3 separate regions of the Homo sapiens genome follow, and regions 1 and 2 are each linked to region 3. Evidence: fine-mapped expression QTL. A gene starts in region 3. Each other region holds a variant in brackets. All regions are shown on one strand. Distances are between the middles of the regions.

Evidence for each region. PIP is the estimated chance that this variant, and not a neighbour inherited with it, causes the effect. A credible set is the group of variants that fine-mapping cannot tell apart.
Region 1: its variant is the best candidate, but not a certain one, in a credible set for the expression of SMYD2 in thyroid (GTEx, PIP 0.78).
Region 2: its variant is the best candidate, but not a certain one, in a credible set for the expression of SMYD2 in tibial nerve (GTEx, PIP 0.87).

The regions. Positions count from the first base shown.
Region 1 is chr1:214,191,195-214,196,421 of GRCh38, forward strand. No RefSeq gene overlaps it. Among named protein-coding and RNA genes, the nearest start is that of LINC02775, 82 kb to the left of the region's middle. RefSeq lists an enhancer at 1,629-2,195. The variant T/A (reference allele first, on the strand shown) is at 2,380.
Region 2 is chr1:214,372,153-214,377,379 of GRCh38, forward strand. It overlaps PTPN14 (protein tyrosine phosphatase non-receptor type 14), which reads right to left. Exons shown (of 19, transcript NM_005401.5): 15 at 4,067-4,285; 16 at 559-687. Among named protein-coding and RNA genes, the nearest start is that of SMYD2, 94 kb to the left of the region's middle. The variant G/T (reference allele first, on the strand shown) is at 2,443.
Region 3 is chr1:214,278,697-214,283,923 of GRCh38, forward strand. SMYD2 (SET and MYND domain containing 2) reads left to right here and starts at 2,463. Exons shown (of 12, transcript NM_020197.3): 1 at 2,463-2,731. The coding sequence starts at 2,559. It overlaps LOC124904509 (a long non-coding RNA gene), which reads right to left and starts at 2,340. Exons shown (of 2, transcript XR_007066876.1): 1 at 18-2,340. RefSeq lists an enhancer at 1,418-1,983 and silencers at 2,263-2,552, 2,573-2,692, 2,723-2,882.

The DNA.
Region 1 (5,227 bases), 88 kb before region 3:
GCATTTCCAGAAAGAAATCAAGAGGCAGGAAGCCTGATTTTCAACAGTTGAGTGGACCCACTGCACTAAAACCGACGGAATTTGCCCTTGACCCATGCCTATGGTAGAAAGTGAATCCAGCCTGTAGCCTGTTAAGTGCATCAGAGGCCCAAGTGCCTGGGAGGTAGCCAGCAGGTGGGCAGTGGATGAGGGGGCTTCAGGGCCTTCTCCAGAAAGCTTTCTCATCATAAATTCACTTCCTCCCTTTACTTTAAATTACTCTGGCCTTCTCATATATAGTAACCACAAAATGCTCATACTAAAGTGGAAAATGGGAGAATAAAAATCAGGCAACAAAACTATATACACAAGGCTGAGTGTGGTGGCTCAAGCCCGTAGTTCCAGTGCTTTGGGAGGCCAAGGTGGGAGGATCGCTGAGGCCAGGAGTTTGAGACCAGCCTGGGCAACATAGCGAGACTCTGTCCCTACAAACAAATTTTAAAAATTAGCCAAGCGTGGTGGTGTGCACTTGTAATCCTAGCTACTTGGGAGGCCAAGGAGGAAGGATCACTTGAGCCTGGGGATTCTAAGTTTTTTTGCTTGAACCCAGGAGTTCTAAGTTTTAGTAAGCTATCATTGCCCTGCTGCACTCTAGCCTGGGTGACAGAACAAGACCCTGTCTCTGAAAAAAAAGAAGAAGGAAAAGAAAACTATATACACAGGCTTATTTATTTTCATAAGATAATTCACAAAATAGTGCTAAAGGAAAAGGCATGTGATATCTTTGATGTAATTTTGTCTTTATAGATGCAAATATTAATGATGTATACATACAGACCTAGATCTATACATGTACTCACAAAGAAAGATGCTGGAAGGCAAACCAGTAAAATTTACCATTATTTCTTTCTTAGGATTAGATGAATGGTATTTTTTAAGTTTTCTGTACTGAACATGGGTTATTTTTGATACTAGGAAAAAATGTTACTTGCAACAATAAATATAATTTTAAAATCTACCATATCAATGAGTATATGTCTTTTTAAAAAGACCAGAATTAGTTGTACAACAATGTGAATATACTTCACACTGCTGAATTGTACACTTAAATATGGTTAAGATGGTAAATTTTATATGATGCCTATTTTACCACAATTAATTTTTTTTAAAAAAAGATAAAGAGATTATGGTAAAGCACTCTTCCATGAATAAAGTTACAACATTGTTTTAAAGCCCAGAAATAATTACTTTAAAATGTCAAGTGATTGCTTTTCTTTTTTTATTTTAAAATTTTGTTCTCCCTTATCATTATCCACAAATGGTTTCTTTTCTTTTTCCTGGGGGGTAGATTGCTGCTAGTAGTTATTTTCATCTTTATTTATTAGATTTATTTATTTCTAAAATATTGTATAGGGTAATTATTACCCTTAAATTAAAAAAAATTCATTCCATGATTTCAAAAATACTAAATAAAAACAGTGACTGTTTGGTAATTTGTCCTTGTTGACATGTCGTTTTGTATTTATTTTTATGTTGTTTCATGTGCAGATTTTATTTTCTCAAGGGGACTGCAGATTCCTAGTGGATCTTCTAGTGGTTTTGTTGTCTTCAGAGAGTTTTATACACATTAAAATTTGCATGTTCATCCACGACACTCACATCCACCCAAATAAAAGAGAAAGAAGCCTGCTGTAACCAAATTTTGACTGCTACCATTGTATTTCTTCTGCAAATATAAATATCTGATCATAAGGCTGTGTGAAACATTTTAAGTTGGTCAAAAACGAGACAGACATGTGAGTCACTCATTGTTGTCATTGTGCTCAGTATAGGTCTGAAAGCTCATCTATGTTAATTTTGACCAGAGTTCCCATCCTTTGTCTCTAGGCACAGGCAACACACTGAGCTGGCATCCTTGCTGTGGGATGAACAAAGCAATTTATCGTTATTGGCAAGTTGGCCAATTTCATCATTAATCGATCATTCACTTTTTCCAGTGTGGTCCTGAGGCATTCCTCTAGGGAGCAGAGGAATTAAGCAGGATTTGCTCGGTCAGGCATGGCAGCAACAGACTGTGAAAGAAATGTTCAAGGTATTTCGTCAATAACAGAAGGTCACTTGCCCTTGCAACAGTATGCATTTCAAACCAAAGGAAAATCAGGCCTAGGATTTTGGCTTCTCAGCGAGTTTTTATTATGAGCACCACCCCCTTCCTAGGCTGCAAATGCTTCTCCCAGAGGGATGCAGCGTAATTTTCACACTAGAGGAAAGCAGACCGCAGGAACACTGTGTCCCGACTGCTTCACTGCTTTGCACTCGCTGCAGACTCAGTCCTCAACCACTGCTTCATGTGAGGGCAACGGGGTGGAAAGGAGACGACCTGGCATGCCCGGTGTGGAA[T/A]GCCAAGGACCTCTGTAAGATGCACACAATAGCTCTTTGCTCCTTTTGTATTGCCACAGCCCCCTCTGAAGAGTATTGATAAGGGGCCAGAACAGACAAGAAGTCAAGGACTGTGAACTAACAGGACTTTGAACCCCAGTTGCTTTTAAATTGACAAATAAGTGAACCTTTTAGCCGAAGATGAGGAAGAAATGAGATTTTGATCCACTTTGAGTATCTAATGCCTCTCTTAGAAGAAGAAAAGGCCCTTCTGAATGGTAACATTCCCCAGTGAGAGCCTATCAGTCGTCATCGTTCCGGGCAAAAGGCCCCGTGGAGACAGACACCACATGGCCCCCTGATCATCATCACACACTGCAGCAGAGAAGGATATGTCTGGATCTCCTTGTGTATGTGGTCAGATCACTACTTAACTTTGCATCCTGTGTACTAATCAATCATAATGCATATTAAATATAAGTATGTTTTCTAGCCACTCTGATATAGGGCTTACGACAAAAGAAAAAAAAAGAGTATTAATGCTCCTTTCAACTCCTTCCCCTAAAATAAACACAAAACAACAACAAAAATTGTAGTATCACTCTTTTTCACTTTTAATTCTTTATATCATCAACCCAAATTGATTGTCAGTATCTTAAGGATAGGAATCAAGTCTTCTACATAGTTTGCGTCACCCACAGTACCTAATCCAGTGCTGTGTCCTTCAGGCTCAATGCACGCTTACGAAGTCCATGGAAACTGCTTACGAAGTCCATGGAAACTAGCAGGTGCATAGCATGTTCTGGTCTTCACAGTGCCCTTCCATCTGGGAACATCTCATTGCACTCGTACCACTGAATTGAGTAGGAAATTAATACCCCAAAGTGTTGACTTCTCCTGTATCTTAGAGAAAGTGTGACTGAGATGAAATCAGAACTCAGGTTCCACTTTTGCTCATATTTTATTGTGTCCTGACATTACGAGTTTCCCACTTTGAAAATACAAAAATGGTAGGAAGGTAGTGCTTGGAGACTGAAGTCAGAAATTATCTCCAGATAGGGCCGCAGTTGGTTCTGAAACTATTCAAGTCATCTTGTCAAAATTAAAATCTGGGGGGAAATGTGTGCATGTGTTTGAAATGACTTATCTGAATCATTGATTTTGAAGAGTTCAGACCTTCAGAATACGACATACATCAAGAACATGACCTACATAGATCATTCTGGGATGCCCAGTGAAAAGTGGACTATTGAGAATCTTAGCAGACGTTTTGAGCACAGTGAAACAAGCGTGCCCAAAATGGGAGGATCTCATTTACATGTTACACCTGACTCAGTGTGGTTCTTGCATGAATTTCCCACATTAACTAATTTCATGGAAAGTTGACAAGTTTCCTCTTTACCAATCCTGCTAGGAACATCTAAAGTACAAAACGAGCACTCTACCATAAAGAGATACTGATGAAAAGATTTCATCAGACATTTCATTAAAGCATAACTCTCAGCTAGGCCTGGTGGTGCACACCTGTAATCCAGCACTTTGGAAGGCCAAGGCAGCTAGATTGCTTGAACCCACAAGTTCAAGACCAGCCTGTGCAACATGTCAAAACTCTGTCTCTACAAAAAATATAAAAATTAGCCACAGGACATGGTGGTGGCCATGCCTGTGGTCCCAGCAACTCAGGAGGCTGAGGTAGGAGGATCACTTGAACTGGGAGGTTGAGGCTGCAGTGAGCTGAGATTGTGCCACTGCACTCCAGCGTGAACAACAGAGTGAGACCCTGTCTCAAAAAAAAAAAAAATAGTGTTACCCTGTAATTTCTGGAGAGAATGATGTTTCACAAGGGAAATGAGAAGTCTCTCTTCTTGACCAAACTCCAGCCCTCCAGAATAGATTTGCCCATGATCTGAGCCCTCTTATTGACGAGGCTCAACCTTGGCTGATAAAGACTATGATCATGCACTAACACAGTTTCTGACAGCTCAAGGACATAACCCTGGGATGACCCTAGTCCCCTTGAAAGTGCCAGCTTGAGAAAACTTAAGGCTGCTGAAAGAATTCACTGTTGGTTCCAGCTAACACATGAAGATAAAGTGCTGTCTTCCAGTTTCTGTGGGAAGGTGGGAGCTTAACTTCATTCAGCACAAGTTAGCAAAAAAACAGATGGGTTTTTCATGGACCAACCCTTCCTTCCCACTTTTTGTATTTATCCATTTCCCTGATTGTACTAAGCCCTTGCTCACCCCTCTCCCTTTCCCTCATTCTACCTTTAAGACTCCCAATTGCCAATGTACAAATTGAAGTTCAGTTCAGTTCATGCTGTACTTTTTCCCTATCACGATAGTTATTACTGATTAAAATCTGTCCTTACCACTTTAACCAGTGCCCAGCTTTGCTTATCTTTGACAGGAGAGACCCTTCTGCCTTGCTTACTACCATATTTCCAGTATTTGTGCAATCTTTGTTCACTGTGTCTGCTTATTGAACAAATACATATAGTGAGTGTTCACTGTGGAGAATTCATTGACAGCTCAGTCCACAAAACTCATTCACCTTGTCCACAACCACTGATGTTTTACCCCTTTCCCTAGTTGGCACATGGGGTTCACTACCTTGGAATTCCACTTCTCATCTTTCCCAGAATGTCACAGCAGGGACTGAGTTCTGCCCATGACCTGACCCACTGGACACATCTTGACTAGCCTAACAATTCCTTCCTCCCCTAGAACACATATTTTTCTGTGATGTCCATACAGTCCCAAGCATTGCCTCTGAATGAGTTTACAGGGAGAATAGATTTTACCAGCATTATAACTCACTCAAGGTTGTGGGTTCCAAATTTGCACTTGAGCTTCCCTCAGTTCAAGTT
Region 2 (5,227 bases), 93 kb after region 3:
TCTCTAGTTACAGCAGAAAAACTATGTTTGGCTTGGCAAAAGAAGAAAAAGATATTTTTTCTTCCCCCAAAGAACAGAGGACTCTCCAGGAACAACGGCTTCTGGTCTCTTTTCAGCTGATAAGGATGATGGCATGTGGAGCTGGGTGCCTGGAGTTGGGCGTCTATGTCGATTTGCCCAGAGCAGCCTGAGACTCCCAAATTCCAGTGGAAAGATCACTGTTTTCGTTTGGCACAGAAAGTCAGCAGGTTGAACTAAAGTCTGTCATTTTTGGTTTTCTGTTGTTTTATTTTCAGTTTAGTGCATTACAATCCAAGGAAAAGAGTTAAAAGCCAGATGAAAATGGGAGGAGGAAAAGCTACAACAATCAATTATCTCCAGGGGAAAAAATATCTATCTGGAAGTAAGAAAACAGATGTATACCAAAGAGAAAAGCATGTGCAGAGAAACAGCACTGCAGGAAGAAGGATAGGGTAGCAAAGTTGACAGCACAAAGCCCATCTTCTGGCCACCCTTTCCCCTGGGGAAAAAGGATGTGGAGTAGGCCATTCCCCTTACCTCCTCTGCAGTGACCATGGCAATCACATTCACTCCCTGCTCCCACACCATCTGCCAGAAGTCGTGGCACGTGTGTGGCAGGGGCCCCTGGGTGGCTATGTAGTGCCATTCTGCCCCGCCAACCACCACCTAAAAACCAAGAAAAGTATCGGTAAATAAACCCCAAGTCCGGACAACATTACCTGCTGATCACCTGTCCATCTGTATCCACCTTAAAACCTTGGATATATTTTTGGGGCCGAATGAATTAGTTCAATGAACAAAAACCCTGAGACTACAGAGGCTAGTGTAGTGACACATTCTCACATGAAAATACTTTTTGCCACTCAAGCCTATTAAATATTTATCTAATCCTGGTTTTTGAGACTGAGTCTTGCTCTGCTGCTTAGGCGGGAGTACAGTGGCACGATCTTGGCTCACTGCAACCTCCGCCTCCTGGGTTCAAGCAATTCTCCCGTCTCAGAATCCCAAGGAGCTGGGATTACAGGCACTCGCCATCATGCCCGGCTAATTTTTGTATTTTTGTAGAGATGGCGTTTCACCACATTGGCCAGGCTGGTCTTGAACTCCTGACTTCAGGTGATACGCCCATCTCAGCCTCCCAAAGTGCTGGGATTACAGGCCTGAGCCACCAGGCTTGGCCTTTACCTGATCTTTGTTTGCAACTCACAGTATATGCAAACTAGTGCCTATTAAAAACCATACACATACACACATGTATAGATGCATATATATGAACATGTATAACTTAGGATTTACTTGTTACAGAAATAATAGTTACTGCTTACTATGTGCAATGTACTCTAACACTTTCCATTCTTTTCTCTTTTCTAGTCGATTTCATTGAAACACACACACACACACACACACACACACACACACACACACACACACACACCTGGTCATGACCACTAAACTGATTTCACATTCTACCACTGTGTTGTAATCCAGTTTGAAAAGCAGTGCTTCATGGCATCCAATTAAACAATAAAAAAAAAAAAAAAGATCATGAAACAACATCCCTTTTGGAGCACTATCTTTCTCCTGTGGATCTGAGATGAAGTGTATCATAAACCTCTGCTGTCACTGCTGCTCTGTGGTGCCATGCACGGCAGAGATGCTACGAATGCTCTTGTCAACAGCATATATTTTATCAATAGCTTCACCTTGGTAGTACCACAGCATCCAACTGAACTACAGTCATGACATGACTTTGGATAATAAAATTATTACCCCTGCAGCTCAGGGTGATCAGGGGAAGATAATTCTACAGCTATAAATACTAGCTGCTGAGAACCATAAATAAGAAGTTGTACCCAAAGTGTTAAAGGTCATGCTGTCAAGGTGAAATGGTGGCCTTTGGAGGAATTCTTTCTGTTCTCCCTTCCAGGTCTGTGCCTTGATATTGCAAAGTCAGGTCCCTTCTACATCTATACAATGCAGATCTCTGGAGAGTTCAAAAAGTAATGAAGTAATCATTGTTTGAAACTTTTTCCCCTCATTTATTTGATAAAACTGTATGCTAACTTGGTTCAAACAAAAACAATGTAAGTTATTGTCTCATTACACAAGGCATGTTTAGGTCAAAGCTGGCAAGAAAAATCCATTTTCCAAATACTGGTGGGAGATAACATTCATATATTTGCTGGCTAGGAGTTTGGTTTATCCGTGGAATTGTGATTTTAAACATTAGCCTCTCTGGCACCCAACGTATAGGAAACATAAATACTTCCAGAGAATGCTGCTGCTGCCTGGGGCCTTTCAGTATATTCCAAGTATTGACAGAAGGGTATTAAAAACTGCATTAAAAACACAACAAGCAGTGCTGCTGAGGTAGATTTCACACATGTGATTCCACCTCTGGAGCAAATAAATCTCTGTTCT[G/T]TGTTAACGGCTGCTTGGAACCCAGGGGGGAAAACACTGGCAAAATATACTCCTCTATTCCAAAACACAGGGACAAGTTCTTGCAAGGTCCACGGGTCTATGAAATGCACCCATGTCTAACCCGGATCCACAGGATGAAATGTGGGCCACAGAGAATACCAAGGAAGGGAATGCTCCTCGGTTAACAATGCCCGATGGGCACAGTTTATACAAAGTGACAGCTTTTTTCAGAGAGCAGATGGAAAATAGTGGAAGAGATCTGGCCAAAAGAAGAAGATAATATAATATTTCTATGTAAGATTTTCATAGACACTCTATCAGGAAGCAGCTGTGTGATCTGCATCTTTGTTGGAATACATTACTTTGGTCATTGTTTCATAATGTAAACTAAGCCCATGAAACCCACCACTGACAGTTTATTTAAGAGTTTCCTAGAGTTCACTTTTTACTTCTCACTCTCAAAAATCCAAGTTAAAATTAGTAATATGATCTATGATAGTTACTCTTTTATATTTCTTTTGACAGTACTTTCTAATTATTAAAAACTATGGTTATCTGTGTATATTAATAAAAATAGTATATACCCAACCATACTATACTTTTCCCATTCTGTATCAAAACTAGTTATAATTGATACACAAGCTAGATATCTAACTCGCCTTTTACAGGCTTAAAAAAACCTGTTAATAATTCTGCTACAGTTGAAAAGTCCAATGAGGAAAGTAAGTAATTCTAGACAAGGCCGAAAACAGGTTTCTAAGGCTATTGATCACAGTGGACTATCAATTGAACCTTGTGTTATTTAACAACACCTATAACACTGGCTTTAACATTAATAGATGAACAAATCTCCCACTTCAGAGTTCAGAGCAAATGGTGACATTCTAAATAAGTGTCCCTCTGTTAACAGGGACTCTGAGGAAGGTAAGCTATTTAAGAAACATTTAACTACAGGTACACATGTATCCATAAGTCAAAGTTTTAACTGCAGAAGTGCTAAACTATGTAATACTGACATATAAAGGTTTGAAGTATTTGAAATAACAACAAAAATTTAGTAACACAAATTCATTGACTAATGTGGCAAATCTTTCAAGATTCAATATTAACCACACTTTTATAGTGTAGGTGAAAATTACTCCACTCTTCTAAATACCATGCAATAATAGGACTCGCGCTTTTATAAAATGCATAACCTGCAGTATTATAAGGGAAAAACAATAGTTTCTATTGTTATTGAACATGACACTTTTATGTCAGTAACGCAATACCTGTAACTTCCAAAGTCTCCAGCACCTGCTAATTACAAACTGAAAAGGATAATCTGAGTATAGAGAGAGTTACAGCCCACAGAGAGAAGGAAAAGTTAAAGCCTCTGTAATGAGCGAGCTTCAGAAATCGCTGACCTGAAGTTCTTCCTGAGGCTGCTAGACTTCCTTCTCTCTGCAGTGATAGACATGCCCTTCCACTTGACTAAGAAAAGCACAGGAGTTCAAAAACAATCCCTGAGGGTCTGGGGACAAGCCAAAAGGTACAACTGCAGCCCACACATTTTCTTCTCCCCGCATTTTTCCCTTTAACCCAGCCATCTTTACCAAACCTTCTAACAGGCTTGCCTTCTTACCTTGATGTGGGAGGCATTAATGTATCCTGTGTTATTTTCTTTGGTTGGTATCAGCTCTACTCGATTCTCCTCATAGGGGACAACTTCACGGATTCGGCTGCGCTCGGCGTTTTCTGGCAGAGCTGCTGTGCTGAAAATGCCATTCGCCTTTTTCTTTGGAATTTGCTCATATTCTGTGAACACCATTCCCTCTTCTAGTTTCTTCTTCAGGGTTCTGAACTGCAACAGAAATTGATCTTCAGCTCTCTAAATTATCTGATCCAAAAACTCAATGAAACAACCAAATTTCTTTAAATATTTAGCGATTGTGTTAAAAGAGATTTCAAGTTCTACAATCAATGCTTGGTTTGTCTCATTATCAACCATATTGATATTTTCCCTTGTCTAATAACCATTTTCCTTCTTACTCATATTATAAGTAGAACAAATCTGCAAGAACTAGCAAGAGTTGAAATTCAAAAATCAATATTTTTGCTATTAACAACTCTGTTTAAAGTCCTAATGATAAAGAGACTGTTAATCTTAATTATCCAAACATCCTTTCCTCCACCTATATAGCTGTTTTTAAGATGATACTGGTCCACAGTTCTATAGCTCTGAGGATTAAATCACTCTCTTTTTTCCTCCTTCCTGGCCAAACTACTAATTCCAATAACATGGTATTAATTGGGTTAAATGATTTCTCTGAAGTCCCTTCTGGCTTTAAAAACATTCTAATTCTGGATACATACTGGCAGAAATCGAACACCCTGGTGTTATTAGTACTTTATTACATTTATACAACCTGTTTCTTAACCTTCTGACAGCAATTTCGGGAACTAAGGATCCACCTTTCTTCGCTTCTGAAACACTACCATGCAGCTGCTTTCTGCTTTTCAAAACCCATGTTGTCACAATGCATTATCCAGACAATTATAAATCAGCCTCATTTTATGGTCATACGAGGGGACAGCATTTTTAAAGAACTCTATAAATGCTTGGATACAAGGTCATGTCTTTTGCGGGAGACATGGATGGAGCTGGAGGCTATTATCCTTAGCAAACTAAAGCAGAAACAGAAAACCAAATACTGCATGTTGTCACTTATAAGTGGGAGCTAAATGATAAGAATTTATGAACACAAAGAAGGAAACAACAGACACTGGGGCCTACCTGAGGGTG
Region 3 (5,227 bases):
TCTGGGGCAGAACTCACCTCTGGAGAAGATGCTCTTCAGCTGTTCCTGCCTCATTTCCTGTCCTCTCTTCCAGATGCTCAGGGGCCCCCAACTACAAGCTCTGTGCTTTCAGGGTCTTCTGTCTTTGTACGCAGTTCTCTCTGCCCAGAAAACTCTTCTCCCCACCTCCACTTGCAAAATCCTGTCCATCCTTCAGGCTCAGCTCTAACGTTACTTGAATGTGATGCCTGTCTTGACTGTTTAGCAGGCTAAAGCTGTCACTCCCTGCCTGTACTACCACAGAACATTTTGTACAAGCCACCATAACTGCACTTATCCCAGTGAACTGTGTTTGTTTGCAGCAAAACACTGTGGTTAGGAACATGGACCTTGAATTCAGACTGACTTGGAAACCAAATTCTGCAATTTATTGTGTGGCCTTGAAAATCATTCCTTCTGGGTCTTAGTTTCCTTCCTAATTTTGGCAATGAGGGGCATAATACCTAACTCATTAGCCTGTTGTAAAGATAAACCAGATAATGTGTTTAATGATGGAGCACGATGCCTGGTCAACAATACTCAATAACTAATGGTATTATCAAACTTGAATGTGCCAAATGCAAGGACCTAGGACTACATTTTGTCCACTTTTTTTTTTTTTTTTTTTTTGAGACAGAGTTTCGCTCTTCTTGCGCAGGCTGGAGTGCAATGGTGCGATTTTGGCTCACAGCAACCTCCACCTCCCAGGTTCAAGCGATTCTCCTGCCTCAGCCTCCCGAGTAGCTGGGATTACAGGCATGCACCACCACACCTGGCTAATTTTGTATTTTTAGTAGAGATGAGGTTTCTCCATGTTGGTCAGGCTGGTCTTGAACTCTCGACCTCAGGTGATCCGCCTACCTCGGCCTCCCAAAGTGCTGGGATTACAGGCGTGAGCCACCACAGCCGGCTGATGTCCATCTTTCTATCCCAGTTGCTGGCCATAGTCAGTCGAAGTTTCTTAAAATGCATAAATGAAAATACTATCATAACTTCCTTTACTTGAAGACGGGTTAGAGGCTTATTTAGTTTGCCACTAATAAGGGCTTTTTTGTTTTCTTTTGAGACAAGGTCCTGCTCTGTCACCCAGGCTGGAGTATAATGGAGTCACCACAGCTCACTGCAACCTTGACTTCCCAGGCTCAAGCTATCCTCCCACCTCAGCACCACTTGAGAGGTGGTTAATTTCCCATAGAGACGGGGTCTTTATGTTGCCCAAGCTGGTCTCCAACTCTCCAATTCCTGGGCTCAAATGATCCTCCCACCTTGGCCTCCCACAGTGTTGGGATTACAGGGCTGAGCCACCACACCCAGCTGATAAAGACATTTTACTGAAATGCCAAAAATTCCACTGATTTTACATCTCCAATCATATTAATCCTTTCCCTTTGCTCAACCAGTCCTGAACTTACACAGGTAACTGTTTGAGGTCCTATTTTGAAGTAGTGGTTTCTGCTAAATGATCTCGTCACAATTTTAGTCTTTACTGCATGTACATCAATTCCAGTCTTTACATAATCATGTGGAACACGGATTATATTTTCCTTTCTCATATGAAAAGTAATAGCGTGCATGTGTATAGGATTTACGTTTCAGGCTTTGTGGGCTTTAAATCCTTTGACTCCTAACCCAAGTGACTTTTCTAAGATCACAGTTCGTGGGTGGTCAAGCATATTAAAACTACTGCAAACTCTAGCGCAGTGTCCTGGACACTGGCCACAGCATCGCATTATCCCCCAACAGCCTAAATTCCTTGAAGGCAAGGTTCTCTCTGGCTTCCTCTGCAACGTTCGCAGCATGCCTCAGAGACTCGGTGAGCTGGGCCGGCCAATGCATTTCCTCTTCCGTCCATGTAATTCCACTAGAGGAGCAGAGGGCAAACTACGTTCCCATTAAAGCCACAAGGTTTAAAAACCTCTAACCTTGGAAAAGCACACTTCAACCCTCTGCACACCAAACTTCTCTACTGTGGTTTCCCCTCTGCCGCTTTCTCCTTGGCGTTCCCCGATCACTGCCTCTAGGGTCTTTACAAGGGACAGCGAACGTAAGGTTTCGGAGCTGGCTTCGCCCCCTTCTATTTACCGGGGGCTGGTCATCCTTCGGGCCAGGCTGACTGTCTAGGGGTGGCCCTCGGATACCTGGTCCCCGCAGGTGACCCCCCTCCCTCCCACCGAGGAGGAGGGCGCGTCCCGCTCGCTCCGTGGAGACGCCGCGGAGGCGCACACGCCTCACGCCTCCTCGCAGAAGCCACAGGGGCTGCGGCTCTTTGTCGCGGCCACACCGGAAACGGCCCGGAGCGCGCGCGGGGCGGCCGCCGAGGGTCGCGGCGCTAGGCGGGGCCGCCGGGCCCGTCCCCCTCCCCGCGGGGGCGCGCGAGGCCCGGGCGGGGCCGCCCTCCCTTCCGGGGAGCGGGGAGCCGCCGCCGCGTCCGCCGGGCGGCTCCCACCCCGCCCCCCGCAGCTCTAGGTGACGCGTCTCCAATAACAGCTCGCCGGGAGCCGCAGCTCGGGCACAGCCGGCGGCCGCGCCCCGCCGCCACCATGAGGGCCGAGGGCCTCGGCGGCCTGGAGCGCTTCTGCAGCCCGGGCAAAGGCCGGGGGCTGCGGGCTCTGCAGCCCTTCCAGGTGGGGGACTTGCTGTTCTCCTGCCCGGCCTATGCCTACGTGCTCACGGTCAACGAGCGGGGCAACCACTGCGAGTACTGCTTCACCAGGTAGGGCGGCGGCGGCGGCGGCGGCGGGCGGGAGCCGGGGGCGCCGAGCGGGAGGCTTGGACGGCGGCGCCAGGAAGTGCGTGCGGCTCGCGGGGTCCTAGCGCCGGCCCTTGGGGCGGGGTGGGGGGCGGGGAGGGGAGGAGGCCCCGCGCTGCGGCCCCGCGCTGCAGCCCCACGCCAGGCGCCACGTGCGAGAGGAAACAGGACCGGTGCCCCGCTGCACGCCCTGCACTGCACGTTTTCAGAGTTGCTCACGCTGGATGCGCAAACCCGGGCGTGCAGGTTCCTGCCCTCAAATGTGGGCTCCGAGCCAGGCTTGTTCCAAGCCTGGGCACTCACTGCCCTCCCGGTGCATTGGCAGCGGAGCCCCAAATTTGGGCAGCCACGGGCTGTCACCTTTAACTTATGCTTCCTGCGGTGTGTTCTGTTACCCACAGTCCAGCCCTGCCTCAGATTGGCCGTTTCTTCCAAGGAATTTAATGACTTAGTATATGTCTTGTAAAGTACGCTTACATGTTAAAGTACGCTTACATGGGTGTTTGGAGGGACGCCAGTGGGCACTGACCACACCCCCTGGATTCTGAGGTGCTGCGACGATGAGTTGCAGTGTCCAGTTTCGGTTTGGGATTAGGAAAACATGGTCGCAGGAAGGGATTGGGCAAGATGTGTGGTTGCTAATGGTATTTAATTGTAAGATACCATATGTATATATGTGTCTGTGTTTGTATATATGATGCATATACATTTGCACACACCAACACATAATTATATCCTCAACTCTTATGAGAGTTTCAGAGCTTAAAGGCACATTAGAAATCACCAATTCAGTCTTGTCTTTCACTTAATGGATGAGAAAACTAAAGCCCAGAGAGAAAGTGGAGTTACCTTTATCCATTCACACCAGTAGTGAAGGGAGTGAAATCTGGCCTTATTCACTTCTGCCTATTTCTCACTGGTTAGGTGCTCAGTAAATTTACTAAGGCAGGAGGCATGGCATTGGGGTTAAGTTTATATCAGGCCTTCCAGTACTCTGAGTAGAGACCATGATTTGCTTTCTTTGAACCTCAGTTTCTTCATCTTTGAAATGGAGATTCCTGGGCTGGATTAAGCTGACCTGCGGTCCTGCAGGGACCTTTTGAGTACAGGTCTCAAGTCCAGCATACTCAATCTCTCAGACCTGTGTGCCTCATTCTACAATAAGACGTAGCAAAAGAAGGGACAAAGGCTAAATATTGTAGTAATCTTGCCCAGACTCCCTGCCAGAACTGTCTTCCGCTTGGGGGGACCTGGAAAGGAACTAGACACGGAATCATGCCGTGGGCAGCTTAAGGGCTGTATGTGATGTGGCTCTTTGAATTGGTGAGCCAAGAGCTAAAGGGTCATGGCACCACTTTGCAACGTTTGAGTGAAGTGAGCATTGGGTTTTCCCAAAGTTAAAAAGGCTGCTGTGACTGGTCCCTTGATCTTCTGAGCCTTGCTGTGGCTCGGAGTCTGCAGCAGCGTGGGTGTCTGCAGTGGCAGGAGCAAAGCAGGTCAGGCAGCACAGAAGGAGCCTCCATCAGGGATCCTGGCAATTCCTGGAAGCCATCGCCTAAGACCATGGATGCCAGGCACATAGTAGGTGCTTACTTTATATGGGTAGTTGCCAGCCCTGGCCCCCAGTGAATGAAAGATCAAATCCCTCTGGATTTAGAAGGGATGAGAAGAACTGAGAGATGCTTCTCTTTAGCTTTAAGTCTCCTAATTGTATCTACTACGCATACCCCCAACCTTAGAACATTAATGGATGGTCAGATGCAAGTTCACAAAGCATTCAGCCTGGATTATTCTGCCATATGTGACAGTTTGCTGCCTCTTTTGTTGTTAAATTTTTCTGATTGACATTTATTAGTGTTACTCACTGTTGCCTTGGGTCCCTCACCAGGGCTGCAACTTGCAATGGGGTGTTATTACAACTTGCAAACCACTTCTCTGTTTGATTTCCCTGACCTTATGTCAATACCCGTAGTTTATTTCCTCTCTCTCCCCAAAGAATTATTTGAAGTCAATTAAAATAATACAAAAGAAATAATATCCATGATACTTATGCAATTAGAAATATCCTTGTACCCTACTTCATGATTTCTATTAAATCTGAATCATTTACTATTAGTGGTTAGGTCATCTGATAGATTCAGCATCAGTTCCTCTGTCAGCAATTTGTATATGACTTAGGACAAATCAGTCTGTCCAGATGTATGAGGGGAACGTGTATTTTCCTCCATAGGGCCTCAAAGTATAGGAGTAGAATTCTGGAAATGTTCATACTTACAGGTCAAAATCTGCTGCCTGCCCCAGCTCCACACACCCAAAAGAAAGCTACCCCTTATCCTTTCTTTTGCCAGAAGTTTAACATAAACAATACTGCTTAAGATAAATGAATGACCCAAGAATTTCCATGTCATACTAATTGTATCAGGATCTAACTTTTTTTGAAGAAAAGAAAAGTGATTTCTT